Homo sapiens: one gene and its partners. The protein of the gene in region 3 purifies or fractionates together with the protein of the main gene of each other region. This does not show direct contact. Each region holds a gene or a part of one and is shown on either strand. Other genes may lie near its edges.

Region 1 (4,249 bases), on a different chromosome or scaffold from region 3:
CCCAGTGAATTTCCCCCACAGCCAGCGCCATGAAAGGAAATGACCAAGTCAACAACACCCCCATCTCCCCTCCCGCTATGTCCACCGGTCACCTCTGCCCCAGATGCATCAATATTCCTCCCTTATATGGGCACCTGGGCATGGCCTTTGGAATGTCCCTCGGAGGAAGCTGGCTCTCAAGCATGTGACTACACTTAAAAGCGAGAGCCAGCAGGCCAACAAGCTCTTGTTACCTGCCCGTTAGAAACAGTGCCCAGGCAGGAACCATTCTTTCCCTGACCCAGCACAGCTCAGGATCACTCCAGCTCTTTCCCTTCCATTTAAACAACAGGGGAGGCCTCATATTTTCACACACAGAGAAATCAAAGCATGCATCACATAAACACCTGCATTACGCATGTGTTTGTCCACCACATCATCTGAGTAGGTGACTCAGAGCTTCCAAGAGGGTTAGTCTGGGCTCCCAGAGGGGAGCGGCCTGATCTACCCCATCTCTGCATGCCCAGCACCTGGCACACGGCTGGCACACCATAGCCACTGATAAACAGGCAATGAGTTGGGATTATTTCAACTACCAATCATACTACTTTAAAATTCAGATTTGTTTTAGTTCAACAAGTATTTAGGAAACACCTTCTGTGGCATCAAGCGCCACGCAAAGGGCAGGGCACAGATGAGGGCATGAAGTTGGACAGTCTCTTTCTTCAAAGGGAGCCTCGTGTAGCAGCCTGGCATGTAAAACAACGAGAAGCCAAGCTGCTCTATTTGAAAGCAGAATGGAAAGAAGGTGGCCCCCCTGAGCCAGGGGCCAACCCCCGAAGCACCACCACTGAACTTCTAGGGTTCTGCAGACTAGAATCTGAAACCACTGTTCACACCTGAGCCCCACTTTCACAAGTGAGGAAACCAAGGGCAGATAAGACTCAGTTACTGGGTCTCCACAGACAATCTCAGGACCTGGCGCCAAAGTGTCCTTCTAAAGAGGGAGCCTGAGGAAGCCAGTGCTGGAGTTGACACTCAGACGAGCGGGGCCCTGGGAACCAGTCCTTCTCTGCTGATAGACAAGGAACTAGAGGTTGGGCTCAAATTAGTAACTAGTAGAAAAGGCATAGGTGACGTGAGTTTCCTATAGTTCTGTCACCAATCTAAAAATATCAAAGAAAGGGCGCCCTGGTCAGGGATCACTGACACCCAAACAGTGCCTGGTATTAATGGCAGCCAGAACTAGGCAAAGGAAAACACGTGGGCTCCGGAGTTGGAGACACCTGGGTAAAACCCTGATCTATTACTTACAAGGTATCGGACAACTCTCAAACCTCAATTTGCTTGCCTTGTAGATGGGGATAAGATTCACCTATCTTTCATGATTAAATGAAACAAAACATGTGGACTTCTTAAAGTAATTACTAAATGGCAGTTCCCTTGTCTTCCTGGCCTCATCTCCCCAGACTCCAATTCCACATGATTTCAAGAGCAGAGCATTTCTAAGGCTATCTGGTTATGACTTCCCTGGGAGCAGAGATATACCTCCCCACCCGCAAATCCCACTAGCTAAATATCTAAACAGGTAAGAGCGGGCCTGGCTGAGCCGGTGCCCCCTTACCTTCAAGGAAGGTGGCGCTCTCCTGGATGTAGGCCCCCAGCTGCTCAAAAATGCCATTGATCTTCTTCTTGGCAGTGACAAAGTGCTTAAGTGGGGATGCATTCACCTCAGCCATGTGTCTCTTATTTTTCTTGACTGTGACGATAGAGTTGCATCGAGAGAAGAGCAGGGACATTGCGCTGCAAGAGAAGCTAACGTGAGCGAACCCAGCAACACCTACCTCGGGACATCCTGCTAGGGAGATGGCGGAATGCTTTGGGGAGAATCAAGAATATGGGGATCTCAGGTCACTGCAACCTCCAGGACTAGAACAAAGGACGGTGAGATAAGAACAGTGTCTCAGGCTGGGCGCGGTGGCTCACCCCTGTAATCTCAGAACTTTGGGAGGTTGAGGCAGGTGGATCACCTGAGGTCAGGAGTTCAAGACCAGCCTGGCCAACATGGTGAAACCCCCGTCTCTACTAAAAATACAGTAATTAGCCAGACCCAATGGCACACACCTGTAATCCCAGCTACTTGGGAGGCTGAGACAGGAGAATCACTTGAACCTGGGAGATGGAGGCTGCAATGAACCAAGATCATGCCATTGTACTCCAGCCTGGGTGACAGGGCGAGATTTTGTCTCAAAAAATAAAACAAAATTAGCATGACACAGTGGCATGCATCTGCAGTCCTAGCTACTTGGGAGTCTGAGGTGGGAGGGTCACTTGAGCCCAGGAGTTTCGGCTGCAGTGACCTATGATCAGTCCACTGCACTCTAGCCTGGGAGACAGAGCAAGACCACATAAAAACACTATTGGTTAGGGGCCAGGTTCAGTGGCTCATACCTATAATCCCAGCACTTTGAGAGGCCAAGGCAGGCAGATCACTTGAACTTTGGAGTTCGAGACAAGCCTAGGCAATGTAGGACCCCGTCTCTATTTAAAAAAAAAAAAAAAAACAGCCAGGCATGGTGGGTTATGCCTGTAATCCCAGCACTCTGGGAGGCTGAGGCAAGTGGATCACAAGGTCAGGAGTTCAAGACCAGCCTGGCCAACATGATGAAACCCCGTCTCTACTAAAAATACAAAAAAATATAGCCGGGTGTGGTGGTGGCCGCCTATAATCCCAGCTACTTGGGAGGCTGAGGCAGAGAATTGCTTGAACCTGGGAGGCGGAGGTTGCAGTGAGCCGAGATCGCACCACTGTACTCCAGCCTGGGTGACAGAGCCAGACCAAGTCTCAACAAAGAAAAACACACACACACACACACACACACAAAAACTATTGGTCTATTTTAGTATAGCACAGGTGTGCTACAGAAAATTTGGAAACTGAAGGGGAAAAAAACCCATAACCCCATCATTTTGTGATAAGCAATGTTAACATTTTATTTACTTATTTATTTTTTATTTTGAGACAAGATCTCGCTGTTACCTGGGCTGGAGTGCAGTGGCGCAATCACAGCTCACTGCAGCCTCAACCTCTTGGGTCCAAGCAATCCTCCCACCTCAGCCTCCTGAGTACATGAGACCACAGGCATGCACCACCACGCCCCACTAATTTTTTTAAAATTTTTTGTAGAGACAGGGTCTTCTTATGTTGCCCAGGCTGCTCCCAAACTCTTGGGCTCCAATGATCCTCTCACTTTGGATTCCCAAAGTGTTGGGATTAAAGTGCTGGGATTAAAGGCGTGAGCCACCATGCCCAGCCAACATTTTTTTTTTTTTTTTCTGAGACAGAGTCTTGCTCTATCGCTCAGGCTGGAGTGCTGTGGCATGATCTCGGCTCACTGCAACCACCACCTCCCGAGTTCAAGCTATTCTCCTGCCTCAGCCTCCCAAGCAACTGGGACTACAGGCACTCGCCACCATGCCCGGCTAATTTTTGTATTTTCAGTAGAGGTGGGGTTTCACCATGTTGGCCAGGTAGGTCTTGAACTCCTGACCTCAAATGATCCACCCACCTTGTCCTCCGAAAGTGCTGGGATTACAGGCATGAGCCACCACGCCCGGCCCAACATTTTGTTTATTATAATTTTTTTTTTTTTTTTGAGACAGAGTCTCACTTTTGTCACCCAGGCTGGGTGCAGTGGTGCAATCTCAGCTCACTACAACCTCCACCTCCCAGGTTCAAGCGATCCTCCTGCCTCACTCAGCCTCCTGAGTAGCTTGGAGTACGGGCATGTACCACCACACCCAGCTAATTTTTTTATTTTTCGTAGACAGGGCTTCACCATGTTGGCCAGGCTGGTCTCAAACTCCTGACCTCAAGTGATCCATCTGCTTCGGCCTCCCGAAGTGCTGGGAATACAGGCGTGAGCCACCGTACCCAGCCATATTATCACAGTCTATTTTTGTGTGACTGTCTCTCTTGCTCTCACTCAATCCTACATATCTTTGTAGCTTATCTTTTCATATAACAACATTTTAGAGGTCATGAGACTTGACTCCAAAGTCCTAGAGGTCTTTGGTCAAAGGTCAAAAGAGGCTGGGCATGGTGGCTCACACCTATAATCCCTGCACTTTGGGAGGCCCAGGCGGGTGGATCACTTGAGACCAGCCTGGCCAACATGGTGAAACCCCTTCTCTGCTAAAAATACAAAAATTAGCCAGGCATGGTGGCAGGCACCTGTAATCCCAGCTACTCGGGAGGCTGAGGCACGAG
Region 2 (4,249 bases), about 10 Mb from region 3:
GAACTTTTGGAAGCTCAGAGGTCAAGAATTAACTTCTGTTGTTTCTCTCTGCATTTCATTTTGCACTACCCCCACCCCTCGGAGCAAGTATGATACAGTGCTATTGCAAAGAATTTGGAAAGTGACATCTCTTTAGTGAGAATGTAATAATTCCAAAAAGACAGGAAGACAACTGGCTAAACGTCTAGAGAAAATGTAAACACTAATCCCAAGCTTACACTGGCATTTAAAATCAAATTGGAGCAATTTATCAATCTATTGGCAATTGGGGATGGTCTACTGCCTGGCTCAGGAGAAGATGGCACTTTGCCCTTTGTTGTCCTCCTCATCCCATCACACCTGTAAGGACCGGAAGTGGGAAAGGATGCAGGCAGTACTGCCAGACCACAATGTCCAGCCTTAGCCAAGCAGCCAAGGGCCATGGCTTTTGCTGCGTTTGAGGTGGGGAAGGAAAATCCATGGAGTTAAGCCTAATTATCTACATGAGAATAGTCTAAAAATTGAAAGTAGCAAAAAATGTTACAGAATGGGACCAAGATCCCATTCAGTGGTGATATAGGTGGGCATAGCAATTGGGGGAAGGGCAGAGAGAAATTGTTTCAAGTTTTCCCAACAAATAATCTCCCTCCATTAATGGATCATACATTCACATCTATAAATGCTAGGAAAGGCTAAATGTTATAGTAGGTATCTTTGTCTAGTTAAATTATAAATAATTTCTCTAACTTCTACATTTTCTGTGCTGGCCATGTATTTCATTTGTCACAAGAAAATCAAAATTACTATAAAAAGAAAAAACAAGTGAAACATAATGTAACCAACCATTTCCATTTAAATGAACTGTTACACTAACATCCAGATATCATCCCACAAGATTAATCTACTAAGTTTTCTGGGAATAAAAGGATCCATAGTGGGAGGGAAAAGCCTTTTCTTTGTTGTTAACGTTAAAGAAATTATTTTAAAAGGTTGGAAATAAACAGCAAGCACATCAATCATTCACTTTGTGAGATGATTCATGCAAAAGCATTTTGAACAGACTAAAGTTACCCTAATACACTGAAAATGTGAAAATCTGCAATGTGCTAAAAAAATATTATCTTTGTCAAATAAATTTTTCAGTGTTGTCAGTAAATCACTCATTTGTGAATCTCATGCAACAAAATAAAACTGACCAAATGTTTTTGCAAAAGTAAATTTCACTCTAAGAACCCACTGACAATGAAAGGTACTTATTCACACACAAACAAAGATAACAGAAATATCAGACATTAAGAGCACCAAGGTACAAAAAGCTTAAATTCCAAAATTAAGGCCCATTTAAAAAGATCAATGACTAAAGTAGATTATTCAATATGAAGTATTATTTAGTAAAGTACAAAACTTCATAAAACCTATAAAAACTTTGGCACACAGTTCCCCCTCATATCATGAACTCATTTGGCAGGTTAAATAAAAACATCATAAGTGATATCAGCAAAAATGGCAGAGTGAGAAACTCCAAAGTCCATCCCTCCATAAAAACAGAAAAAAATTGGCAAAAGCTGTCATAATCCATTTTTTGGGAACCTAGAAACCTAATTAAAAGCTTGTGGCAACCAGAAAAACAATCAAGAATTAAGCAAGAAAAAGAAATAAAAGGCATTCAGATTGGAAAGGAAGAATGAAACTATTTTTATTTGTAGATGACATTATCTTCCATATAAAAAAGCCTAAGATATCTACAAAAAAATCTGTTAATAGAGTTCAGCAAGATTGCAGATACACAATCAATATATCATCATGTGGTTAAACACTAGCAATGAACAATCAAAAAATGAAATTAAGAAAACAATTCCATTTATGATAGCATGAGAAAGAATAAAATGCTTAGGAATAAATTTAACAAAAGAAGTGCAAGACTTATACTTGGAAAATTACAAAATACTGTTGAAAGAAATGTTAAGCGTCCTGAACAAATAGAAAGATGTCCATGTTCAGGTACTCGAAGACTTAATATTGTTAAGGTTGCAATACTCCCCAAATTAATCTAGAGATTTAAAGCAATTCTTTTTTTAAATGTCAGCTGGCTTTTTTTCTGAAGAAATTAGTAAGCTGATCCTAAACCTCACATGAGAAAATTCAAGGAACCCAGAATAGCCAAAACAATCTTCCAAAAGAACAAAATATAAGGACTCATACTTCCAATTCCAAAACTTACTACAATACTACAGTGTACAATACAGTGTGGTACTGGCAGAAAGACAGACACACAGATAAATGAAATACAATGGAGAATCCACAAATAAACCCAGCATCTACAGTCAACTGATTTTTGACAATGTTGCCAAGACTATTCAATGGGGGAAAGGAGTCTTTTCAAAAGCGGTGCTGAGAAAACTGTATGGCCACATGCAAAAGAATGAATTTGATACCCACCTCACACAATATACAAAAATTAACTCAAAATGGACCAAAGAACTAAGAACCAAGTGTAAGAGGTAAAACTATAAAACTATAAAAAGGGGCCGGGTGCGGTGGCTCAAGCCTGTAATCCCAGCACTTTGGGAGGCCGAGGCGAGCAGATCACGAGGTCAGGAGATTGAGACTATCCTGGCTAACATGGTGAAACCCCGTATCTACTAAAAAAAATACAAAAAAAATTAGCCGGGTGTGGTGGTGGACACCTGTAGTTCCAGCTATTCCGGAGGGTGAGGCAGCAGAATGGCGTGAACCCGGGAGGCGGAGCTTGCAGTGAGCCGAGATGGCGCCACTGCACTCCAGCCTGTGCAACAGAGCGAGACGCCATTTCAAAAAAAAAAACAAACAACTATAAAAAGGAAATGTAAAAGTACATCTTTGCCATCTTGGATTAGGCCAGGGTTTCTTGGATATGACACCAAAAGCATAAGCAGCCAAAGAAAAAAATAGATAAATTGTAGTTTAGCATCAAAGGACACTATCAAGAAAGTGAAAAGACAACCCACACAGTGAGAGAAATAATTGCAAATCATATATGAGATTAAGAGTCTGTACCAGAATACATTAAAAAAAACCTCTTATAACTAAGTAACAAAAAAATAACCATTTTTTTAAATGGCTGAAGCATATGAATAGACATTTCTCCAAAAAAGATACAAATGACCAAGAAGCACATGCAAAGATGTCAACATCATCAGTAAATAGGGAAATGCAAATCAAAACTACAGTGAGGGCTGGGCGCGGTGGCTTACGCCTGTAATCCCAGCACTTTGGGAGGCTGGGGGCGGATCACCTGAGGTCAGGAGTTTGAGACCAGCCTGGCCAATATCGTGAAACCCCGTCTCTACTAAAAATACAACAACAACAACAACAAAATTAGCTGGGTGTGGTGGTGGGCGCCTGTAGTCCCAGCTACTCAGGAGCCTGAGGCAAGAGAATTGCTTGAACCTAGAAGGCAGAGGTTGCAGTGAGCCAAGATCATGCCACTGCGCTCCAGCCTGGGCGACTGAGTGCGACTCCGTGTCAAAAAACAAACAAACAACACTACAATGAGATCCTACTACACACCCATTAGGATGGTTATAATTTTTTTTACAAAGCGAGTATATAGAGAAATTGGAATCCTCATACATAGCTGTGGGAATATAAATGTGCAGAGAACACAGTTTGCAGTTCCTCAAAAAGTTAAACATAGACTTACTACATCACCCAAGAACTCCACTCCTAAGTTACAGTGTGGATGCACTTCAAAAGCCAGATATAAAAGGCCACATAATGTATGACTCAATTTTTATGAAATGTCTCCATAGACACAGAAAGTAGATTAGTGGTTACTAATCTGAGAGTGGGGAAATTGGGGTGTAATTGCTTAACAGTTATGGGGTTTCTTTTATGGGTGATGAAATGTTCTGGAATTAGACAGTAGTGATGACTGTATAACATTGTGAATACACTAAAATCCACCAAATTGTACAATTTAAAATGGCTAAAATGGTGACTTTTATGTGAATTTTATTATAAATAGCTAAAACATCACTTAACTGAAAATTACATTACTGATCAGTTGTAAAACTACTGTTCATTATAATCTGAAAGACTGTCAGATGTGTGCCAAATTTTTGTAAAGTATGGTTCCAAAATTCTAGATCCTCACAATACATATATGTAGATACCAATTCATCTTTATTGTGCTTCTAACTTACTTTAAGAGCCTAAAATCACAGTAAGTTGTTTTAATGACAGCTATACAGAATGAGCCAATCAATGAATACTGGGACAATTTGAACAG
Region 3 (4,249 bases):
CATCTCTGCGTGTTCCTGGTCGCAATCTCATGTCTGTGGTGTTAGGAAGAATGCCCGAGGACTCTGATCTTCGGCAAGGTGGGTGTGTCTGGAGCAATGCTGGGGGCTCTGCAGGCAGCTTGCTCACGGTGGACAGTTCCTTTTCTGGAGGCTCTGTGACACTGGGGGGTGTGGACACTACTTTGGGACAGACGTCTTCCACGGGGAGAGGTTCCTTGATGGCAGGGTCAGCCCTCAGCTGCACAGCACCAGCCTCCACCTGCTGCTCATCATGGCTGCTGACATGGCCTTTTTTACGAGAGAAAAACCACCACCAGCCGAGGAGCGCCAGCATCCCAGGCAATGCCAAGGGGAAGAGCGAACGGAACTGGATTGCCATCCTGGAGGCTTGAAGTAATTACACCTGGGGAGAGCAGGAGAGCGGGGAGGAGGGATGTTACAGAGCCAGGTAGGAGGATACTGGCAACCGCACATGCAAGACAGTCAACAGGGTAGAGCTGGAGCCATCTCCTCCGCCTTCCCTGCCCTCCAAGAGGAGCACACCTCTCAGCTCGTACCAGTCCACCCTCTGTGTGATCCACTGGGGGTCAGTGGCCAGGAAGAGGCATCTTCCCCTCCATGCTCCCCAACTCACGCACCCTCTTGAAACAAACCGAGCATTCTATTCTTTAACCCAAATCCCTCCCTTCATCACTTCATGATGCCAAATTCTCTCTATGTTCCCCAAAAAGGGGCTAGCTCTGCTCAGTGTGGCTCAGTTCTCTAAACTCACAGAACATTTTTTTCTATCAAGTGGCATCAGAGCATTTCAAACCCCCATGGAATCCACATGTGCATGGTTCCCTCACATCTACCCATAAAATCATGAGTCAATGAAATGGAACTTTGTTACTCAGCAATTAGAGACAGTGAGAATGAAGGAGGAATAAAATTCCCAATGGCTAAGGAGATGCTCCAGGGTGAGGGACCAACACAGCAAACTGCAGCATGAAGGTCCAGGTCAGACTTGGAAGATTCAAATACAGGCGCTCCCTGATCTTCCAAGGCTCAACTGAGAATTTTTCAACTTTACAATGGTGGGAAACAATACCCATTCAGTGGAAACTATACTTCCAATTTTGGATTCTGATCTTTCCCTGGACTACCAATAGGTGATGCGCTACTCTCTCGCAATGCTAGCTCCCAGTCATCCACTCTATCACAAGGGTGAACAACGGGCACTCCAGAGTGGATCGTGTTGCTAGGTGATTTTGCCCCACTGTAGACGACTGTGAGTCTTCTCAGCTCATGTAAAGTAGCCTAGGCTAAACTATGGTGTTCAGTAGGTTAGGTGCATTAGATGTATTTATTTTCGATTTATGCTATTTTCAGCTTACAATGGGTCTACCAGGATGTAACTCCATTGTAAGCTGAGGAGCATCTGTACCATCGTGGGGTCAGTGAGGGTGTCCTAGGGCCCCACTGCGTAGTCTGGACTTTATCCTGCAGACAACAGAGAACCAGCATAGGTCTGCAAGGCACACACATCAAATTGTTTCTAGAAGGCAATTCTGGGAACAGGATGAAAAGTGAATCGAGGCTGGGCGCAGTGGCTCATGCCTGAAGCCTGAAATCCCAGCACTTTGGGAAGCAGAGCTCGGCAGATCACCTAAGGTCAGAAGTTTGAGACTAGCCTGGGCAACACGGTGAAACCCTGTCTCTACTAAAAATACAAAAATTAGCTGGGCATGGTGGCAGGCGCCTGTAATCCCAGCTACTCAGGAGGCTGAGGCAGGAGAATTGCTTGAATCCAGGGGGGTGGAGGTTGCAGTGAGCCGAGATCAAGACTCCATCTCAAAAAAGAAAAGTGAAGTATATCGAGCAGAAGGAACCTAGAAACCTAAGTCAGTTAGGTCTAAGCAAGGAGGAATAGTAAGGGCCTAGAAGAAGGCAACAGACATGTAAAGGGGATAGAAAACTCAATTTTTCCTCATCTGTAAGATGGGGACACATCTCTTAATGGATGGTTGGTATAAGGATTAGCTGAGATATAGAAAGTTCTTTGCAAAGCAGTTAACACTCACTAAAGGTATATGATGGGCTTATTCTAGAACACTTACATTCAATGCTTCCTATGCCAGCAAACTTTAAATCTCTCTGCCAAAGTAATGTCTTTTTAAAACCAAAAATCCTTCAACTGACAAGCTGAATTACACCTTATTTGGGTTTGTTTTCTTTTAGAGATAACAAATGCACATGTTTTAACAACTCATATTGGTTTGACTTATATTGTTTTCTGGCAGAACCAGAACATCAGTACTTTTAAAAGTTCCCTGAGAGGTTCTACTTTCCAGCCAAGGCTGGGAACCACTACTCTAGGACTCTGCTTCTGAAAGTGCGATCCATGTACCAGAAGTCCTGAATATTGCCTAGGACCTTGCTAGAAATGCAGTATCCCAGTCTCACCTCAGACTTGCATTTTAACAAGATCCCTAGGGGATTGAGAAGGACCTTACAGTTTGTGAAGGAATGCTAAGAGGTGTGTTCTGCCCCTGAAGTGATGAAGTGGGGGCAGTGGTAGTGAGAAGGTCACCTCCATTTGAAAGTCCCTATATCTTTAAAGATAAACTTTCTTGCTGATATTTGAAGCAGCAGCAATGATAGCATTTGAAGCACAATGCAGGGCTAGGCAGTGGCCAGGGCTAAGGCTTTACATCAATTCCTCAGGGAAGAAATTTAGTGCTACCGTTTTGCTTCACATTCAAACACAGAACCTTGCTAGATTGTTTTCCTTTTATCTCGCTGTCGTCCAGGCTGGAGTGCAGTGGTGTGATCTCGGCTCATTACAACCTCTGCCTCCAGGTTCATGCAGTTCTCCTGTCTCAGCCTCCAGAGTAGCTGGGTCTACAGGCGCCCACCACCACACTTGGCTAATTTTTGTATTTTTGGTAGAGACGGGGTTTCGCCATGTTGGCTAGACTGGAACTCGAGACCTCAGGTGATCCGCCAGCCGGCCTCCCAAAGTGCTGGGATGACAGGCCACGGTGCCCAGCCAAATGAATTACTATCTTGAAGGTTAAAATAGCTCAAGGAGGCTGGGTGCGGTGGCTCACACCTATAATCCTAGCACTTTCAGAGGCTGAGGCGGGTGGATCACGAGGTCAGGAGATTGAGACCATCCTGGTTAACATGTTAAACCCTGTTTCTACTAAAAATACAAAAAAAAAAGAGAGAGAGCCGGGAGTTGTGGCGGGAGCCTGTACTCCCAGCTACTCGGGAGGCTGAGCGGGAGAATCACTTGAACCCGGGAGGCAGAGGTTGCAGTGAGCCAAGATAGTGCCACTGCACTCCAGTCTGGGTGACAGAGCGAGACTCAAAAAAAAAAAAAAGCTCAAGGCATACAGCCAAGGGATGGGTACCTAAATTCTCTCCCACATTAAATCTGGAACCCATTATTCTAGAACTGTGGGGAAGAGGCGCTATATGAGCCAAGAAAAGGGGAAGTCTGTACTACCTTTCCGGAGAGCCTTATGATAGCTCTTAAAAGCTCATAACCACATCCTACAACTCTGAAATCCCACACTTGGCATCTTTAAATTAAAAAAACAAAAACAAAACCACAACAAAGAAAAATCCACAAAGCCAAGCACCTGTGATCCCAGCTACTTAAAGAGGCAGAGACAGGAGGATCGCTGAAGTCCAGGAGTTGCCACCAGCCTGGGCAACACAGTGAGACTAGTCCCTTAAAAAATTTTTTTTCAAAATGTTTTTAACCCACGTACCTCTGCACAGGCTGAGGCATCATTTGAAACAAAATTGGGATTAACAAACATTTCAGGGGAATCACTGCTAGGTAGATTATGGAATCCACTGACATACCGATGTTACCGAAAGAAGTTGATCTCATGTGCCGACATGGAAAAAATCACCTGGATACGTAAAACAAAAAGGTACAGACCACCATGTGTATGGAATGTCTATGTTCACATAATCCCATGGAAAAACTGGGAAGGACACACAACAAGCCATTCAGTTGTAGGAGAGGGGAAGTTTCTACACACTGATCTTGTATCCTGCAAACTTGCTGAACTCACTAATTCTAACCATTTAGTAGATTTCCTTGGGATTTCTTACCTACAGATAAAGAGTCTTACTTCCTCCTTTTGGGAGGAGAGATTTTTAATTTCTTTCACAACCGGTTCTCCAACTTGGCTTCACATTAGCATCATCTGGTAAGCTTTTAAAAGCCCAAGGCCAAGGCAGCACCAGC
Region 4 (4,249 bases), about 21 Mb from region 3:
ACGGTTCAGGGCTCATCAGAAGTTATTCTATTTAATCTGCTCAACAACACAGCACGGTGCTGCCCTCCCCGAGTATCCCCACTGAATGTGAATGTGGTTTTGAAGCGATTTCTAGGATCACTTAGTTGGAAACCCATAAAGACTATTTAAAATGGGTCTGCTCTCCCTGCTGCCTTGGTCTACCAACACAAAGCATCTCTTGTGTTAGCAGGGGATTTGCGGGCTGCCTCCCTCCAAAGGGGCTGACAGGCCTCTCCCCAAACAATTGGACCAGTCCTATGACGCAGACATGCTTGGCCACATCTCCCCTCTGACCTCTCTGACCCCACAGTCTCCTCTGCCTCCCCCAGATCTCCCTGCTCCTCATCAAGGCAACACTTCTCAGACAGCTGCTGGCACCTGATATCTGCACTTCCTCCCAATTGCTTGTCAGCCCTCCTGAGTCTGGCTTCTGTCCCCAACATTGTACCAGTGTGGCTTTTGTCACAGCCATCAGCTGGGTACAAAATAGTGCACAATAAGTGAATGGATGAACGAATGGGTGCTGCTCCCTAGTTCCCAGCTGACTTCTACAGACCAGCCTCTTTCTCTTCATTTCCACATCTCACTCTGGGTTGGGCAGGCTCTTGCCCAATGAGAGTCCTGAGCCCCACTCTGTACTGGCCCTGCACTGTGCCGTGATCGAGCCCACTCACCGGATGGGGAAGCCAGCAGCACTGATATGGATGGTCTCCACGAGGCCACAGGCCTCCAGCTGGCTCAGGACCTGCAAGGGTGGGGAGACAGGGCAGGCACCTGCAGCATGGGGCCAGCAGGCCAGAAATGCCATTCTCTCAGCCCTTCTTCTTAGACCCTGGCCAGTGCCAAGCTGCAGGCTCTCCCAAGGCTTGGCTAATGGGGGTATCTCCTTGGGGCTGTGAGAAATCGAGGGACCTTGAAAACAAATCTCCCACTAGAAAGGGTCCTGGTGGTCCCAAGTCCCCCTCATCCGACGCATGGCTTCTGATACAGCTGAAGCAAGTGATGTCCTGGCTCCGTCTCACCCTGCCCTCAGTGTAGTCTCACTACCACACAACCCAGCCCAGGCAAATTTCCAGTTTGGATTGTTTTCACTGTCTGCAGGCATTAGAGGGTGGTTCACAGCTGAGAGGCAGGGAAGATTATACTATGAAGATTCTTCTGTGACCTGAACCCAGGTCTTTACCACAGAGCTGAGTTGTCCTGGCTACAAACCGGAAGGCCACATCTACCAGGCCACACCTTCAGCAGTGCCCAGCATTCACCCCTCATCCACATCCCTCAGAACCTGGAATCCCAAGAAAAGGGCAGCTGCTGGCTAGAGTGCTTTTGTTAGATTAGAAAAAAATGATACCGGCTGAGTGCAGTGGCTGCTCATGCCTGTAATCCCAGCACTTTGGGAGGCTGAGGTGGGCAGATCACCTGAGGTCAGGAGTTTGAGACCAGCCTGGCTAACATGGTGAAACTCCATCTCTACTAAAAATACAAAAATTAGCCAGGTGTGGTGGTGCATACCTGTAATTCCAGCTATTTGGGAGACTGAGGCAGGAGAATCACTTGAACTCGGGAGGCGGAAGTTGCAGTGAGCTGAGATTGCACCACTGCACTCCAGCCTGGGTGACAGAGTGAGGCTCAGTCTCAAAAAAAAAAAAAAAAAAGAAAAAAATGATACCTCCAGTGAGAAATGGCTGCACTGTGCGGGGACTGTGTGGTGATGTAGACTTTCAGCTAATCACGAGACACCCATTCCTCTGGGCAGTTTCAGTCTCTCATCAGGGTACATGGCTCAAAAAAACAAGATGCACTGGAACTTGCCTCCCTGGCTAGGCTACTATGCACAGACCACACAACCATACATGCCTGCCCTGCCACAGCAAGGGAGATGGGTCCTCTCTCATGTCAGGCCTGGCCGGAGAGACCACTTCTGTGCACTCCATTTGGAACAGATGTCCTGCCCTTCATCTCTCCAGGGCCTTGGCCAGATGGGGTTTGGTGCGAAGCAGCTTTGGCCCGGTGTTAATTACCTCCTCTTGGAGAAAGGTCTGCGCCTGGCCCTGGCTGTTGGGCTTGATGCAGCGAATGTAGTGGGGCGTGGTGCTGTGTAGGACCTGCAGAAGCTGCTCCAGTGAGGCCTGCAGATGAGAGACCATGGGGTTAGGCAGGGAGAGGGGCTGCCCAGGGCCATCAACTGGGCTCTGGTTAGTAACTACATCAAATGCCTCCAGCGGGCCCTTCCATGATCCTGAGACCAAGAATCTCCTGTGCAGGGATGACTGCTGCAGGCTCTCAACGAGCAGGCTCAGAGCACATTCCTCTCCCAACTTCCCATGCTCCTCACCTCTGTCTTAAGGGACCCTTCTAAACCTGTGATCCTCCCTGACTGTTCTCCCTGAATCCAATCTCCTCCTCTTTCCCCTCCCCACTTCTCCCCAGAGCAATCTTCTTAGAAAAGAACAATCTCAAAACTTCTTGCCATTCGTCCAGCAACAACTGTTATCACTCAGCTCATCCTGTGTGTTGGAGGCTGTGCCACAGGCTGCCTGCTGCCATGTCAGAGCTCACTCCAATGGGCCACACATGTTGGATGAACACCCTCGGGGGTGTGTTTGAGGCTGGGTAGGAAGGTGCTAATCAAACCTGGTTTTCCAGGTGCCTCCTCGAGGTGGTGGTGATAAAGCTAAAGTCTGAAGGATGAGAAGGACTAAACTAGGAAAAGGGGCGTGGAGGATGGGAGTGAGGTGGAGCTGATGGGGCAGTAGTCAAGAGTATCCCAGGAAGGTGGGGCGGTACATGCAAGGACTGAGAGGTGGTAGAAAGCAGACGATGTGAGAGAAGTGAGTGAGGGTAGGGTTAGAACAGGAAGCTAGACAGCTGGAGATGAGCCAGGTCAAAGAAGCTCATGTAGCTGATCCTCTTCCCATGAGCACCCCAGTGGCAGGGGGTGAGAGGCTGCATAGTGCCCCCATAGGCCCCTAGACTTCCCATCATATTATACCTGATAGCCTATTTGTCTACTGTTTCTGTCTTCCACACTGAAGTATAAACTCCAGGGGACTGGGACCACATCTACTTGACTTGCCACTGCTCCCCAACAAACAGCACCGATCCCGGCAGGTGCTCAATAAATATTTGTGAGACCGTGGAGTTTGAACCAAGCACCTCCCATCAGCACATCAGACCCACCTTGAACTTGGACACCACGGTCAACACAGGGGCCCTGCTCTGGCCAGGGGGTTCCTCCTGGGTCTTCTCTTTGGGGTTAGTAGGAAACAGCCCCATGAGCAGGGGGTCCTGGGATTGCTGCAGGAGCCTGGTCAGCTCAGGTGGGATAGGGTCCTATTGGGAAATGGCAAGAGCAGCAGTGAGGGCAGGTGGAGCTTCTGCTCAGGGCCATCCACTGCCCACCCAAGCCGCAGATGACGGGGCTTCCAGGTAGGACAGGGCCTGAGTCCAAGAGAAGGTCCATTGGACAACCAGAGACCTGGAGACCCAGTCTAACATGGGTTATCTCCAGGCAGGTCATGCTTGATTAGTGGAGACCTCAGACAGGTGGGCCCAAGATGGTGATTCTGGATTCTGGGAGGAGGTTCAGGAGAGAAAGGACTCACGATGGGAAACTACTATGTCTGCATAGCAAAGACCCAGCATCTCGTTTCTCGCAGGCCCCACAGGGCATGGCCCAGCCCGTACCTTGTTCTTCTCCACCAGGCCTGCTGTGTGGTACCGCACAGGCCCCGCATAATGCACCACAATGAAGCTGGGCTCCCGGCTGAGCTTATTGTGGCCCAGGCAGGGGCTGCCTGCCAGGGCAGTCTCAATGCGTGTCTGGAGCTGGGCTGCGCTGCTGGGTCGATTGAGGCGGCATTCCTGTGGGATGGGAACAGGGGGTCAGCCACCAACATGAGAGTGTCTCACCACAACCCTCACTGTCCCCACCCTGTGGACCCCATGACAGCAGACATCACACAGGCATCATAGTGTCCCCAACAGAAAAAATATAGCAATTAGCAGATCTATTTGGCAGACTGGGAGGAGAGAGGCACAGAGAGGAAACAGGATAATCATCAAGGCCCCAGAAAACCCAAAGGCCAACTCTGGTGCTCGGCTCATTAGCTGACCTCCCCACCTCATTTATGAGGGAGCAGATGCTGATGGGGCTTCCCTCAATGAGATCCAAACAGGGCTGGTTGTCCTGGTAGTTGATGAATGACCACTCCAGGCCCTCAACTGC
Region 5 (4,249 bases), on a different chromosome or scaffold from region 3:
CTTAATGACATAATATTTCTATGAAGCTGAGTTTCTGGCAGTTGCTGTGATTAAAAAAAAATACTAGATGAAAATCAATATGAAACAGGAATGCAAGTGGTTCTGCCAAGTCATTTAATGTCCAACAGGTGCACACCTCTCATTGGTAGCTAGCCACAGTTATTTAAGAATGAAATGAAAATATTTCTTCTTTCAATTTATTTTTTTTCTAAATGGCTATTAGCTGTTAGGCTATAAATACTTATTAAACAGTTAGAATATAACTGCTTAAGACTGAACTATTTTCTTTTGGCCGAGGAGCACTGCTAAAAATTTATTCAGATGCCAAAGCAATGGTAACAGATTTTAGGAATGTGTGCCACTGTGGCAGGAACACTAAGAGAAACCTCGAGAGCTAGCCTTTGGAACTGAATTGCACCAATTCCTCAGCTTATAGGCCTATAGCGGGTCACTACAACACTTTGCCTTAATTTCCTCAATGGCAAAATAGAAACAATATCACTTTGACTATGTGATAGAATTGTTCTAAGGACTACTGGAGATGGAAGATGAAATTCCTGTGAACTGTAAAGCATGACAGTTATTCAGCCTGAAGGGGAAGAAAATGGTTAGGGGTCCACAAATCACTAAGTGTATTTGAAAAACTGAATCTCACCTTTCTGAAATCTCCTCTAGTAACTCCATAAGTTTAGCAGCCAAACCAAGGCGTCGAAATTCTGGGGCAACAGACAGAGCTGTGACGTGCCCGTGCCATTCTTCCCTAGCTACTGAGCCTTCTGCTTTACCCATAACTGCCAACAACAACAAAAATCACATTCAGTAACTAGACATTGATTTACACATAAATATAGAATTACTGTTCAGTATGTTTTTATTACAAAGGAAACTAATAAAGAAGTTTTTAAGTACCACCTGAGGTCATCCAGCTAACAGTTAGTGCTTTTATTTGAAATTCACTTGTAAATGTAACACTATCTGTTACATTTAGAATAGTTCTAAAATCAGAATTAGAACAAAAAAGAACGATATACTTAAAACACAACTAATTTTGAAAAAAAAAAAACCAGAGTATGTATTTTTTCAAATATCTGCATTTCATATGGGTGTGGGTATATGTGGGTACATGTGGATGTACACATATAGTTCAGAGCTAAAGGTTCTGTTAGTAATGCTAATTCAATGAGGATGCTATGATGCCTGCATTATGTACTAAATAAACCATGTAGAAATTTAACAAAAGTATAGAATGAAAGATTTTTTTTTTTTTTTTGAGACAGAGTCTCACTGTGTCACCCAGGCTGGAGTGCAGTGGCATGATCTCAGCCCACTGCAAGTTCTGCCTCCGGGGTTCAAGTGATTCTCCCGCCTCAGCTTCCTGAGTAGCTGGGATTATAGGCACGCGATACCACGCCCAGCTAATTTTTTGTATTTTTAGTAGAGGCAGGCTTTCACCATTTGGCCAGGCCGATCTTGAACTCCTGACCTCAAAGGATCTGCCTGCCTTGGCCTTCCAAAGTGTTGGGATTACAGGCGTGAGCCACTGTACCTGGCCTTAGAATGAAAGATTTTTTTTTTTTTTAGAATGAAAGATTTAAGAAGACTAAGACCATGTCTGTCTGGTTCACTGCCGTTATCGCCTGGGCCTAGCACAGTGCCCAAAACAGAGATCAGTAAGTTCTTGAATTGTTGAAGAGGAAATAAAATTACAAGCATCATTATATTCCAATTCTGCAGTCTAAAGCAATCAGTTGAAATCTATATTAAAATCTTTACCTACTCCACAAAATACTAGTGGTATTATACTTACTATAACCCATTAATTCTCCACCAGGTGCCTCTGCAACAATGAAATACTCTGGCCAGTGGGCGAGGTATTGTAGGTAGAAAGGAATCCCATACTAGAGTCCTGTTAAGGAGTGTGAAAAGTAATGGACAGTAAAAAGTTCTTCATTAAGGGATATTGTAAAAAAAGTTTCCTTTAAAAAGTATACTGTTACTTTATCCCCAGCTCTGTATGAGTCCTATAATCATACATACCATTACATGAAATATTTAGGTTATCACTGATTTTTAACAAAATTGCCTGGACATATAGCCTCAAGTGTGGAATGGTGATAGCACTGTCTAATAGAAAGCAGAGAATCAGGACCCCAAAGTTCTACAGTCTACTTCCCTACTGACCATACCATATCTAAGTCTCTCCATTTATCACCTGATATTGTTTGTTTGCGGTCTGCCTCCTCTTAGTCTATGAATATCATGTTCCCTCTGTCCCTGGTGCCTGGTACACAGTAGATGCTTAATACACTGATGCTTACATAATTGCACTGAAAAATTAATGGGTAGTTCCTACTTTGACTTCAGCTATGAGACTGTGAAAATAACTTTACAACCTAAGTCCTTCCAGAGCCAACTTAATTACCCAGTTTTTCCTCTCCACTGATTCAAATCCTGCATTTCTAGTAATGCAGATAAAAGCTGACTTAAGGAATCAACTATGTTAACAGTAAATGCCTGAATAATTTGCTCATGACTTCACTCTTCAACCTTGGGATATCCTTACTGACATGTAATCATTCCTACATTTCTCTTCTTCTTTTTACTCTGTACTTTAATGGATGAAAATATATTTCTTGTTAGTATAAACTTTCTGATGCAATTTATCAGAGGACACCATCAATCACACATAAATATATTTTTTAAGTTCCTGGAAAACCTGTTCCGTGCGAAATTCTTCAAAATCTCCTCTGAAGGACCATCATTATTTTGAATACCCCTCAAATACAACCCTTAACATGGCAGGACAGCCAGTCTTCCTGCCAGCCAGCCACTGACATATACCACAACCATCTCTTCTGTGGCTAACAGAGGAGTCCCAGACACCCCTCCCTCCCATCGACCTCTAGGACCTAACAGGTTACTTTCAAATATAGGCTCACCTGGATTATGGGACTTTCACTGCAAATTTTAAATGTCACTGGAAGCACACCATATAAACGGATTTGCATCCTAAAATCCTTCCTTCCTATATAGTGAAACTTTTGTCATTCAAAATTCTTCAAAAATCTTAAAAGTGGTGATATCATTAGTCGTAATTTAAAAAATCCAGATGAACCTGCAGAGATTTTTTGCTTTTCCCATTCAGTTTTGTTTCTGATATGTAGTCCTGTTGCTGCCTGCACCTGTAAGTTAATTTTTACTGCTGTATAGTATTTCTTTATGTGAAGAGACACCTTAAATAGCCTGTATCCTGACAATGGACACCTGGGTCATTTCCTGTTTCTCAAAAAAATGTTTGAAATCCTTCTTCAGTACAGCTTAATTTACTTAACCATCTCCTGATTGTTGTGTGTGAATCTTATTCCAAATGCTTAGTAACTCTCCTGCAATAAATAATGTTTGTAATGGTATAACTCAGGGGTTAGCAAACTTTTTCTGTAAAAGGCCAAATAGTTAACATCCTAGGCTTTGTGGGCCATACAGTCCCTGCTGAACTACTCAAACTGCAAAAGCCACAGAAAAAAATATAAATTAATCAGCGTGGTGTCCCAATAACATTTTATTTACAAAAACAGGCAGTGGGCCAGATTTGGCCTATGGGCCTTATTTTGTCAACCACTGACAAACTGCCTCTATTTCTTCTTATTTTCAGCTTTCAGGAAATGGAATTACTATTTCCAAAGTGCCTTCTGGAAAGATAATAGCAATTTATATTGTCACTAGCAATTTATGAGAATGTTCCTCTCACCTCACCATCATCAGCACTGAGGTTTATCATTTTTTAAAATCTTGGCTGATACATAAAATATGGCATCTCATTTTGGTTTTAGTTTACATGTCTTTTGACTGATGAGACTGAACTCTTAACACGTTCATTAAGCTCCTATATGCCCTCTTTTGATAAATTACCGGTTAGCAGAACCCTCCTACCCACCTACAGTAGATACAGAGCATAACACAGAATCCGAACTTTGTGTTGTAAGCCACTAGAGATGTGGGGTTATCTGTTACAGCAGCATAACCACAGTATCCTATCTTCACATCTTTGCCCCATTTTTCCATTAGGACAATAATAGACACTGTTCATTGTTACCTCAAAGCCTTCACTTTAGTAACAAGTCCCAATTTATAAAGCAGGGCACATTTCTGGACTCTAGATAGGATTCAGTAGACAGGTGAAGCATGAAACAGGTGCTGGTCAATGAGACAGAGCGGGCCTGTGTGGCATTTCCCAAAGGTACTCTCCTTT
Region 6 (4,249 bases), on a different chromosome or scaffold from region 3:
TATTCAATATGGCGGCTTCTGGAACCTTCCTTAAAAGAAGGCACATACCTTTTGCCCCTTCCCTTCTACTTCCTCCATCCTACAGCCTGGGACATGATGTGAGGGCTGCAGCAGCCCTCCTGGATCATGAGGTGACTTTGGGAACGGAGGCCAAACACAGCAGAGTGACCTGGTAGAAAATCCTCGAGCCCTGGGGCCTTCACAGAGCAGGGCCAGCCCTGGCAACCGTGGCCTGGCTCTCTTGGGACCTAACAGCTCAGTAGGATAAACTCACAGATGATCTTAGCCACTATTGCGGGGAGGCCCGTTCTGTTCCTCGCAGCTCAACTCCATCCTAATGGCTCATGCTGGCCGGCCACAGGCCCTGGGCATTCAGGCTGCCACAGAGGCGGGAGGGGCCACGTGCTCCCAGGCTGAGGGCAGCAGGAGCAAGAGGCAGGGCCGGGCCAGGGGCTGCTCCACTGCCATTGCCACCTGTGTCCCCGCTTCCTCCACAGGCAGGTGACAACACCCCGGCCATTTCCTGCAGGAGCCACTTCTTCTCATGTTGCCACCGAGGGAGGGCTTGGTGCCCGTGCCCTTGAACCGTGAAGGGGAGCCCCAGCAAGGCGAGGTCCTTGCCCAGGGCCATCTCGCACCCAGCAGTGCAGGCTGGAAGCAGAACCCAGAGGCTCAGAATTCAAAGACAGAACTGAACACTCCATCTACTGTGTCCCTGTAGCTGCAGCCCCCTCTCCTCCTCCGCTCTTCCGGCCCGACAGACACTGTGGACAAGCAGTATTCCTTGATAAGCCCAGGACAAGACAACAGCTCAGTCTGGCCTCCTTTTCAGTGAACTCATCTCTGAATCCACCTGACTCTGCTGGCCCCAGCCCCCTCCAAGCGTCTGCACAAACCTCTTGACAGTAGCCATCACTGCACACATGTGCCTGCCCCTCCCAGGCTGCCCCTGCCCACCACCCCATGGTCCTTCCAAGAGCGTCTGATCCTGCTCAGGGAAAGCCTAGGCTCCCGCCTGGTCCCGAGGGCCCTCTGTGAGCCAGCCTCTCGCACCACCAAGCCTTCGGAACGCACTCCGCCCTGCTGCCCCTGGCTTCCGGACGGGGTAACCACTCAGCATTCTGCAGGGCTCAGCTCAGACCTCTTTTCTCTGGGAGAGGGTATCCTGGGTCCCCCAGTGAGGTGCACATCCCTGCTAGGTGCCCCCTTCCCTAGAGCACCTGGGGCCATCTGTGTGGTGTTGGTCCTCCCTGGTAGCAGCCTCTGCCCCGCCCCGTGGCACCTGGCACTTTAGACTCTGGATGTTGAGGTAATCTTCACTCCCTGGAGGCCAAGGGAGAGGCCAGGGTGGGACAAAGGGTGGCTGCCAGCCCCAGGCCTCCTACCTCCCTCCCGCTGCAGGATGTGGTGCAGGTGCACGACGTCCAGGATGGCTTCCAGGTCCTGCTCCGAGTAGCCCTTCCTTTGCATGTCCTCCACTGAGTCCGGGTAGATCACCTGGTCACGCAGGGAGCCCACAGACATGTAGGGCCTGTGGGAAAGCTGGGTGTCCACGGAGGGAAGGGCCGGCTCTGCCTCCCCCAAGATACTCTGCGCCTCCCAGGCAGTGTCCACATGCCACGCTCACACGCATCCACACGCTCACATCGCCGCCCGTGCACACACCCCACACAGATCCAAAACAGGGCAGTGGATCGGGCGGGTTTGGAGGGAGCAGGAACCACAGCCCGTCTCTGGCTCTGGGGACAGTGCCTCAGTGTCCTCTCCTGAGGTGCTGACTCTTCACCACTTCCTGGGCCTCTGCAGGAAGCCATGTGTGAGCGCACAGGCAGGAAGAGGTGGAGGAGAGGCGCACGGGCTTCCTTACCTCTGCGGGATGTAGAACATGCGCTGGGGTGGGGGCTTGTAGAGCACACCACCGTACGTGGGCCAGAGCCCACCCAGGATCCGGAACAGGGAGCTCTTGCCGCAGCCATTGGGGCCTGTGATGAGCAGATGCATGCCTTCCTCCACCTGCAGGGGCAACAGCCGCTGACGCCAGAGAGCGCAGGCCCCTTCCCGTACCCTATGGCCTCCTGACCAGCCTTGAGAGGCTCCCAATGCCCGAGGCCAGCACGCAGGCCATTCTTGATCTCTTGATAAGGGACAGCAGGGCCTGGGGGATGGGGTCCAGCGTCCACAGCCCTAGCTAAATTTGGCTCTCGCTAAATGCCTGGCCCAGGACACAGGAATGGACAAGCCCCGGCCCAGTCCTCAGGCCCTGACACGCCTGGAGAACATGGTGCCAGCACAAGAGGAAGGGCCTATTCTGCCACAGCTGAATGAGTAGGTGTGTTCCAACACAGCCAGCGCCGTCCTCAGTCCCATCCGACTCCCACTTCACCAGGAATCCAAGTGCAGGGTCAACTGTCAGCCCCCTTTAAGGAACTGCCCTGAAAGGCACTTTGTTTTCAAGAGACGAGACCTCACTCTGTTGCCCAGGCTGGAGTGCAGCGGTATGATCACAGCTCACCGCAGTCTCCAACTCCTGGGCTCAAGTGATCCTCCCACCTCAGCCTCCTGAGTAGCTGGGCCTACAGATGCACGCCACCATGCCTGGCTAATTTTTAAATGTTGTTTTAGAGACAGGGTCTTGCTATGTTACTCAGGCTGGTCTCAAACTCTTGGCCTCAAGCGACTCTCTCACCTTGGCCTCCTGAGTCACTGGGGACAAAAGGCAGTTTCTTTCTTTTCTTTTTGAGACGGGGCCTTGCTCTGTTGCCCAGGCTGGAGTGCAGTGGTGGGATCATGGCTCACTGCAGGCTCAACCTCCTGGGCTCAAGAGACCCTCTCACTTTAGCCTTTTTTTTCAAGTGGCTAGAACTACAGGCACCGCCACCACACTTGGCTTATTTGTGTATTTTTAAAAATTTCTGTAGAGACGGGGTTTGCCATGTTGCCCAGGCTGGTCTTGAACTCCTGGGCTTAAGCGATCTGCCCACCTCGGCCTCCCAAAGTGCTGGGATGACAGGCATGAGCGACCACGCCCGGCCCAAAAAGCACTTTCTTTATGTCTCTAGACTGACAGTACAGACCCCACTGCCTCCCCAGGTGCCAGAGTGGCCCAGAGATGCCACAGTGGCCCCTGGGCTCTGCATCATGGACCTCAGGCTCCTCAATTCACTGACTCCATGGTCCTCGCTGGAGCTAGGAAATGCCTACTTTGGGAAAATGCCGGCCAGGCTGGAGGCGGGCTGTGTGCAGGGAGGAGGCCAGGGGCCTGGAGTCAGTGAAGTTCACGGTAACAACAACAATGCTACACGGGGCTCCTGGGAAGACTTGAGGCCGTGGTCTTTAGCTTACCTCAGGCAGTGTCATGGGTGGAACTCTGTCCTCTGAAATTCCTATGTGGGAACCCTAATCCCCACTACCTCGGAGTGTGAGCTTATTTGGAAACAGGGTCATTGCGGACGTGATGAGTTAGGTCTGCATGAGGTCATTCTGCAGAGGGGTGGGCCCTAATGCAGTGTGACCTGTGTCCTGACAGAAAGGGGAGACGGAGACACGGACACACCCAGAGGGAGAGCGCCGTGTGGAGACAGAGGCTGAGGCCGACCTGCCGTGGCAGAAGCCAGGGAAGCCCGCAGATGGGCAGCAGAGCAGAAGCTGGGACAGAGGCCCCGAGCGGAGGCACCTTCTCGGTCCTTGGCAGAAGCCCGCCCTGCCTGCGCCTTCCTCTCGGACTGCTATTCCCCGAGCCGGGAGAGAGGCCATCTCTGCTGGGAAAGCCACTCAAAGTTTGTAACGCTTTGTGACCGCAGCCACAGGATGCTAATGAAGCCACCTGACTGTCCCCTCCTGAAGGGTGGGGCCTGGGCCTTGCCCCATCTCGCATACCCGGCTCCCTGAGCATATGTGGCCCTGCGCGCAGGGGCCCCATGAGCTTGCCCGCTGCCCCTGCCTGCTTGTGCTGCCCGGGGCCAGCCTGGAAACCACCTTCCTTGGACTCACTGGTGATCAGCTCCCCCGACATCCTAGGAGGGGCCGCTGCGAGCGGTGAGGGGTAACCACCTGTGCCGGCCCCCTCCTCCCTGGCATGCCCCTCCTCTCTGCTTCCTCCTGCGTGACCTGCCCCTCAGGCCCACGGCCCCTCACTCCTCTACCCTCAGCTGCCTGCCCACTCGCTCACAGCAACTCCTGGGCAAGGCTTCATCCCACCCCCACCACCCCCAGGGACTCTGACCACTCTTCTTGTGACCCCCACTGTCCC
Region 7 (4,249 bases), on a different chromosome or scaffold from region 3:
GAGCCCTGGGAATGTCCCGCCTGATGGAGTGCCCGTGTTTCCCCGGGGCCCAGGCCACCCTGGGGAGCCCAGGCTAACTTAGGATGAGACATTCACGAGGCCTTGGTCCACTGGGACCCACTCCACCTCTGGAGGGGCTGGGGTCTGAGCTCAGACGTGCCTGTGACCAACCCCAGTAGAAACCTAGACACCAGGGCACAGCGAGTGTCCCCCGGGAGGGGACAGGTGAAGCGGACACCTGGTGTCTCCCAGACCCTGCCCCACGCCCCCTTCCCTCTGTGACACCGCAGCAGTGAGCAGCACGGCACTGCCGAATTCTATGCCCCTTCGAGATCACTGGGCCCCAGGCTCTGGTGGGGAGGCTGCCCAGTGCTGGGCCCTGGCTGGACCGGGGACTGCCCTTTAGAAGACGGCCCACAGAGGTCTTCTTTGGTGACTTGCCTCATCTGGAGAAATTAAAAAATGAAAGGCAGGCGCCAAACGTTTAGGGACATTTCTATAAGATCTCATTATAATTGTTTCCTTTGAACAGGGGGAAGGCAAACTGACCAGGGCTGGGGTCAGGCGTGCTGGGCCCCCTTTGAAAACACAAAGCCTGGCCGGGCGCGGTGGCTCATGCCTGTATTCCCAGCACTTTGGGAGGCTGAGGTGGGTGGATTGCCTGAGCTCAGGAGTTTGAGATGAACCTGGGCAACATGGTGAAACCCCGTCTCTACTAAAAATACAAAAAATTAGCCAGGTGTGGTGGCAGGCACCTGTAATCCCAGCTACTCAGGAGGCTGAGGCGGGAGCATCACTAGAACCCAGGAGGCGAAGGTTGCAGTGAGCCAAGATCGCACCACTGCACTCCAGCCTGGGCAACAGAGCGAGACTCTGTCTCAAAAAAAAAAAACAAAAACCGAAAACACAAAGAGCAATGAGAAAGTCCTGCCTCTCCGGTCACTGCAAGGCTGGAGAAGTGGGGACAGGAGGAGCCCTGAGCCCCACCCACTTTGGGCCTGGGTGTGGTACCGGGGGGGCCAACCTTGCACTGAGACCTGACCCATCCCCAGCAACTGCTCAGCAACCCAGTCCTCGGGTGACCAGCCCCTGCCTCAGCTTGGAGAGCCACCCATTTCCTCCTCCCTTGCCTGAAACCGGGTAATGGAGCCTCTTTCATTTCTCCTGGCCCAGGGGAGGTCCCTAACCCGGCAATCCCCAGGGCAGGCCAGGCACAGCCACACTGACTGGGGGCATGGGCTGTGAGAGGAACCTGGGCAACAGGCAAACAGGTGGCTTTGACCCCGACCCTGACCCTGACCCTTGCCCGCGGCTGCGCACCTGCCTCACGGCCTGCTGCAGCTTCTCCAGGCTGAGCTCCTGGGCCTCCCGCAGCAGCGTGCTCTCGTCCATCTTCAGCATGGACACACGATATTGGCAGAGCTCCACGACCACCACGTCAGGCTGCACCTCCCGGATGGTCTGCAACAGCCACAGGTCACACCTCGAGAACACAGCCGCTCCCTGCCCCTCAGCACAGCTGACGCCAGCACCAGGGGCCCCATCCCAGGAGCAGCCAGCCTTGGCGTCACCCCAGGGCTAGCTAACCCCGCTGCTGCAGTGACAGCTCAATTCTCTAAGCGACGAGAGAGGAAGCTGTGAGGCTTGTTCACTTGTTAAGTGGGAAAACGCACAAGGCCGTCACGGCTCCCAGGCAGGAAGCCCACCTTGCCACTCCCAGGGACCACAGTGTTGAAGCAGGAGGCCTGCGGTGCGCACACACGGGCACACGGGCCCTGCCGGGAGGTCCCTGAGTGCAGGACACAGGAGCTTACACCAACCCGTGTCCGGGATGTGGCGGGTGGCGGCGCTCACCTTCACAACGTCCCTCTTGCTGTCGTCGCTGAAGTGGGCTGTCCCCACCACGTACACCCTGCTCCCGTCCTCAGCCACCAACTGGGTCACAGTGCGCGGCAGGTTGGGCCGCTGACGCCGCCGCTTCAGCTTCATCTCCAGGAGCAGGTTGAAGGCGTCCACGTCGGCTGCAACAGCAGCACAGGCCGTTGTGGTGCCGGGCCCACCCCAAGGACGCCGCCGGGCCCGCTGGCAGCCTGGGCTCTAGAACCCTCCTGGGTTCTGAGAACTGAACAGGTGCAGAGCACAAGACTCCTGACGAGCGTCACACTCCACAGGCTTTGCCTGCCCAGTGATGGGAACACCGGCTACCACCTCTGTGAGCTGCACGGCTTCGAGAAGCCAGGGCCTCAGGAGTCCTGTGCCCCATACACCCCATGAGGGCGACCTTGGGGGTTGCTGTGGATGAGGTTCGGTGTGGGGGACAGTGGGGGCAGGTGCCGCAGGGGGCTCAGCTAGGGGAGGGGCTCTGAGGCGAAATGGGCCCCCCCACCCCACTCAGGAGGGACAGGCTGAGGCCACAGCAAGGAGGGACTCCCGTGCCGCTCACACTGCTTGTGCTCACGAGCCCCCCATGCCCAGGGGCCTGCCTGTGCTGCTTGCAGCCCCTCCAAGAGGCTCCACTGCCAGGCAGGGCCCAGGAGCAGCTGCTGTTGGGTGGCACCAGGCCTAGCAGCACCTACCTCAGGTCTCGGCCAGGGCCCCTGCTCACCACAAGCTCCAAGCCCCTGGCAGTGGTTGGCTGCCTCCCCCTCCTCCCTGACTCAACAGCCCAACACCGGGGAACGTGCCAGGACCCTGAGGGACACGTACACAGGTTCTGGGGGTCTCCAGAAAGCACCCTGGGCACCGGCTCTGAAGCCTCTGACGGCACAACAGGTTCCACGTTGGCCTGCAGGTGGAAAGGAGAGTTCAAGTCAGGGTCCATGCACCCCAGAAAGCCAGGGCTCCGTGGCAACTCCACGGACCACGTACCCTGGAAAGGGACCCGTGGCCGCTGTGTGGACCACACACCCTGAAAAACGAGGGCCCGTGACCGCTCCACGGACCACGTACCCGGGAAAGGGACCCGTGGCCGCTCTGTGTACCACACACCCTGAAAAGCAGGGCCTCCGTAGAGCCTAGGCCCCACACTGTCAGTACCCCTCCTGCTTGGCCATCACTGGCACGGCTGCCATCAAGCTGGGCAGACAGGGCCACCAGGCCACCTCAGCCCAGCGCCCCTCTCCCTCGGAGGTGCCTCCTGCCTGACCCTGGAGAACCCTGTGAAGATCACCTTTGCAGAACAACAGCCAGGGACCGACCCCGAGAGCCCACAAAGCGGGGAAGCCCCCCGCCCCTGTCTCTGTGCAGCCAGCCCAGCCTCCACCTCACCTCGTGCGGTGGCTGCTGCTCCTCCCCGTCCATGGCTGGGCGGCGGCTTCCTGCACCTGTGGGGAGCCTGAGGAGAGGCATGAGAGGCGGGGTTTCCACCTGGAGCCCCAGACCTGGCTCAGGACTCACTGCGTAGTGCCCTGTCAGTCTAGAACCATCTGTTGGGTGGGCCTGGGGGCTCCTTCCCCCATATCCCCAAATGCCTCCTGCCCATCAAAGGCTGCTGAGGTCCAGGGTCGGTTCAGGTCAGGCCCGGGTGGGGAAAGGCCAGCAGGTCCCCAGACACCCCAGCATAAACCAAACGCAGACGGGCCCAGGGCGGGTTGCTGGTGCACAGGCCTCACTCAGAACAGGGCCAGAGCTGCCCAACCCTCACTGCGGCACGGCGGGCACACATAGGAAGGCAGCCCTGGGGTCCACACATGATCTCAGGACACAGCAACGCAGCTGCTGACACATGGCAAGGACCCCAGGGCCTTTGTACAAAAGCCACTTCCCCTTTCAGTAACTACAGCCTGGGCAACAACACCGGCACAGAGTCAGTACAGACGGAGGAATCCACAAAGCACACAAATCAACGTGTTTGGACCTAAGACCTTCTCTCCCACTTTAAGAGACAAACATGGTGTGGAAGGAACCACGGTAGAAACCCGGACAGGCTGGGGCAGCCACACGAGGGGGCTGCCCCGAGGCATCACAGCTCCCCACAGACTCTCAGAAACCAGGAGCTCAGGCCGGGGGCCCAGGAGCCTGAGGGAAGGAAGAAAACAGCCAGGCGCCTGCAGCACCAGAGGCACGCACCGGCCAAGACCCACAGAGCATCGGCGAGACCTGCGCGGAGCCCCTCGAGGCGGGGCCAGGGACCAGCAGGCTGTCCTGAGACTGGCCACAGGCCCTGCTGCACCATGTGGCTCTTCCTGAATGTTCTCAGCCACGGAATGCCAGGAGTGACTGTTTACCAAGTTAATGGCTCATGCATGTC

Evidence for each region.
Region 1: the proteins of AKAP1 (region 3) and MFN2 purify together in Homo sapiens (affinity purification with mass spectrometry; one large-scale study listed by BioGRID and IntAct). This does not show direct contact.
Region 2: the proteins of AKAP1 (region 3) and HELZ purify together in Homo sapiens (affinity purification with mass spectrometry; one large-scale study listed by BioGRID and IntAct). This does not show direct contact.
Region 4: the proteins of AKAP1 (region 3) and MYO19 purify together in Homo sapiens (affinity purification with mass spectrometry; one large-scale study listed by BioGRID and IntAct). This does not show direct contact.
Region 5: the proteins of AKAP1 (region 3) and NAA20 purify together in Homo sapiens (affinity purification with mass spectrometry; one large-scale study listed by BioGRID and IntAct). This does not show direct contact.
Region 6: the proteins of AKAP1 (region 3) and ABCD1 purify together in Homo sapiens (affinity purification with mass spectrometry; one large-scale study listed by BioGRID and IntAct). This does not show direct contact.
Region 7: the proteins of AKAP1 (region 3) and TRABD purify together in Homo sapiens (affinity purification with mass spectrometry; one large-scale study listed by BioGRID and IntAct). This does not show direct contact.

The regions. Positions count from the first base shown.
Region 1 is NC_000001.11:11,986,698-11,990,946, reverse strand, and holds part of MFN2 (mitofusin-2), read right to left. Parts: intron 1,783-4,249; 5' UTR 1,779-1,782; coding exon 1,604-1,778; intron 1-1,603. UniProt on the Homo sapiens protein: Mitochondrial outer membrane GTPase that mediates mitochondrial clustering and fusion. Mitochondria are highly dynamic organelles, and their morphology is determined by the equilibrium between mitochondrial fusion and fission events.
Region 2 is NC_000017.11:67,101,648-67,105,896, forward strand, and holds part of HELZ (probable helicase with zinc finger domain), read right to left. Parts: intron 1-4,249. UniProt on the Homo sapiens protein: May act as a helicase that plays a role in RNA metabolism in multiple tissues and organs within the developing embryo.
Region 3 is NC_000017.11:57,101,595-57,105,843, reverse strand, and holds part of AKAP1 (A-kinase anchor protein 1, mitochondrial precursor), read right to left. Parts: intron 404-4,249; 5' UTR 380-403; coding exon 1-379.
Region 4 is NC_000017.11:36,503,255-36,507,503, forward strand, and holds part of MYO19 (unconventional myosin-XIX), read right to left. Parts: coding exon 4,145-4,249; coding exon of another isoform or gene 4,137-4,144; intron 3,886-4,136; coding exon 3,709-3,885; intron 3,355-3,708; coding exon 3,202-3,354; intron 2,151-3,201; coding exon 2,043-2,150; intron 767-2,042; coding exon 696-766; intron 1-695. UniProt on the Homo sapiens protein: Actin-based motor molecule with ATPase activity that localizes to the mitochondrion outer membrane. Motor protein that moves towards the plus-end of actin filaments. Required for mitochondrial inheritance during mitosis.
Region 5 is NC_000020.11:20,023,326-20,027,574, reverse strand, and holds part of NAA20 (N-alpha-acetyltransferase 20), read right to left. Parts: intron 1,899-4,249; coding exon 1,808-1,898; intron 792-1,807; coding exon 656-791; intron 1-655. UniProt on the Homo sapiens protein: Catalytic subunit of the NatB complex which catalyzes acetylation of the N-terminal methionine residues of peptides beginning with Met-Asp, Met-Glu, Met-Asn and Met-Gln. Proteins with cell cycle functions are overrepresented in the pool of NatB substrates.
Region 6 is NC_000023.11:153,737,856-153,742,104, reverse strand, and holds part of ABCD1 (ATP-binding cassette sub-family D member 1), read right to left. Parts: exon of another isoform or gene 3,527-4,249; intron 2,014-3,526; coding exon 1,868-2,013; intron 1,532-1,867; coding exon 1,386-1,531; intron 1-1,385. UniProt on the Homo sapiens protein: ATP-dependent transporter of the ATP-binding cassette (ABC) family involved in the transport of very long chain fatty acid (VLCFA)-CoA from the cytosol to the peroxisome lumen.
Region 7 is NC_000022.11:50,192,112-50,196,360, reverse strand, and holds part of TRABD (traB domain-containing protein), read right to left. Parts: intron 3,335-4,249; 5' UTR 3,301-3,334; coding exon 3,268-3,300; intron 2,786-3,267; coding exon 2,707-2,785; intron 2,022-2,706; coding exon 1,855-2,021; intron 1,462-1,854; coding exon 1,321-1,461; intron 1-1,320.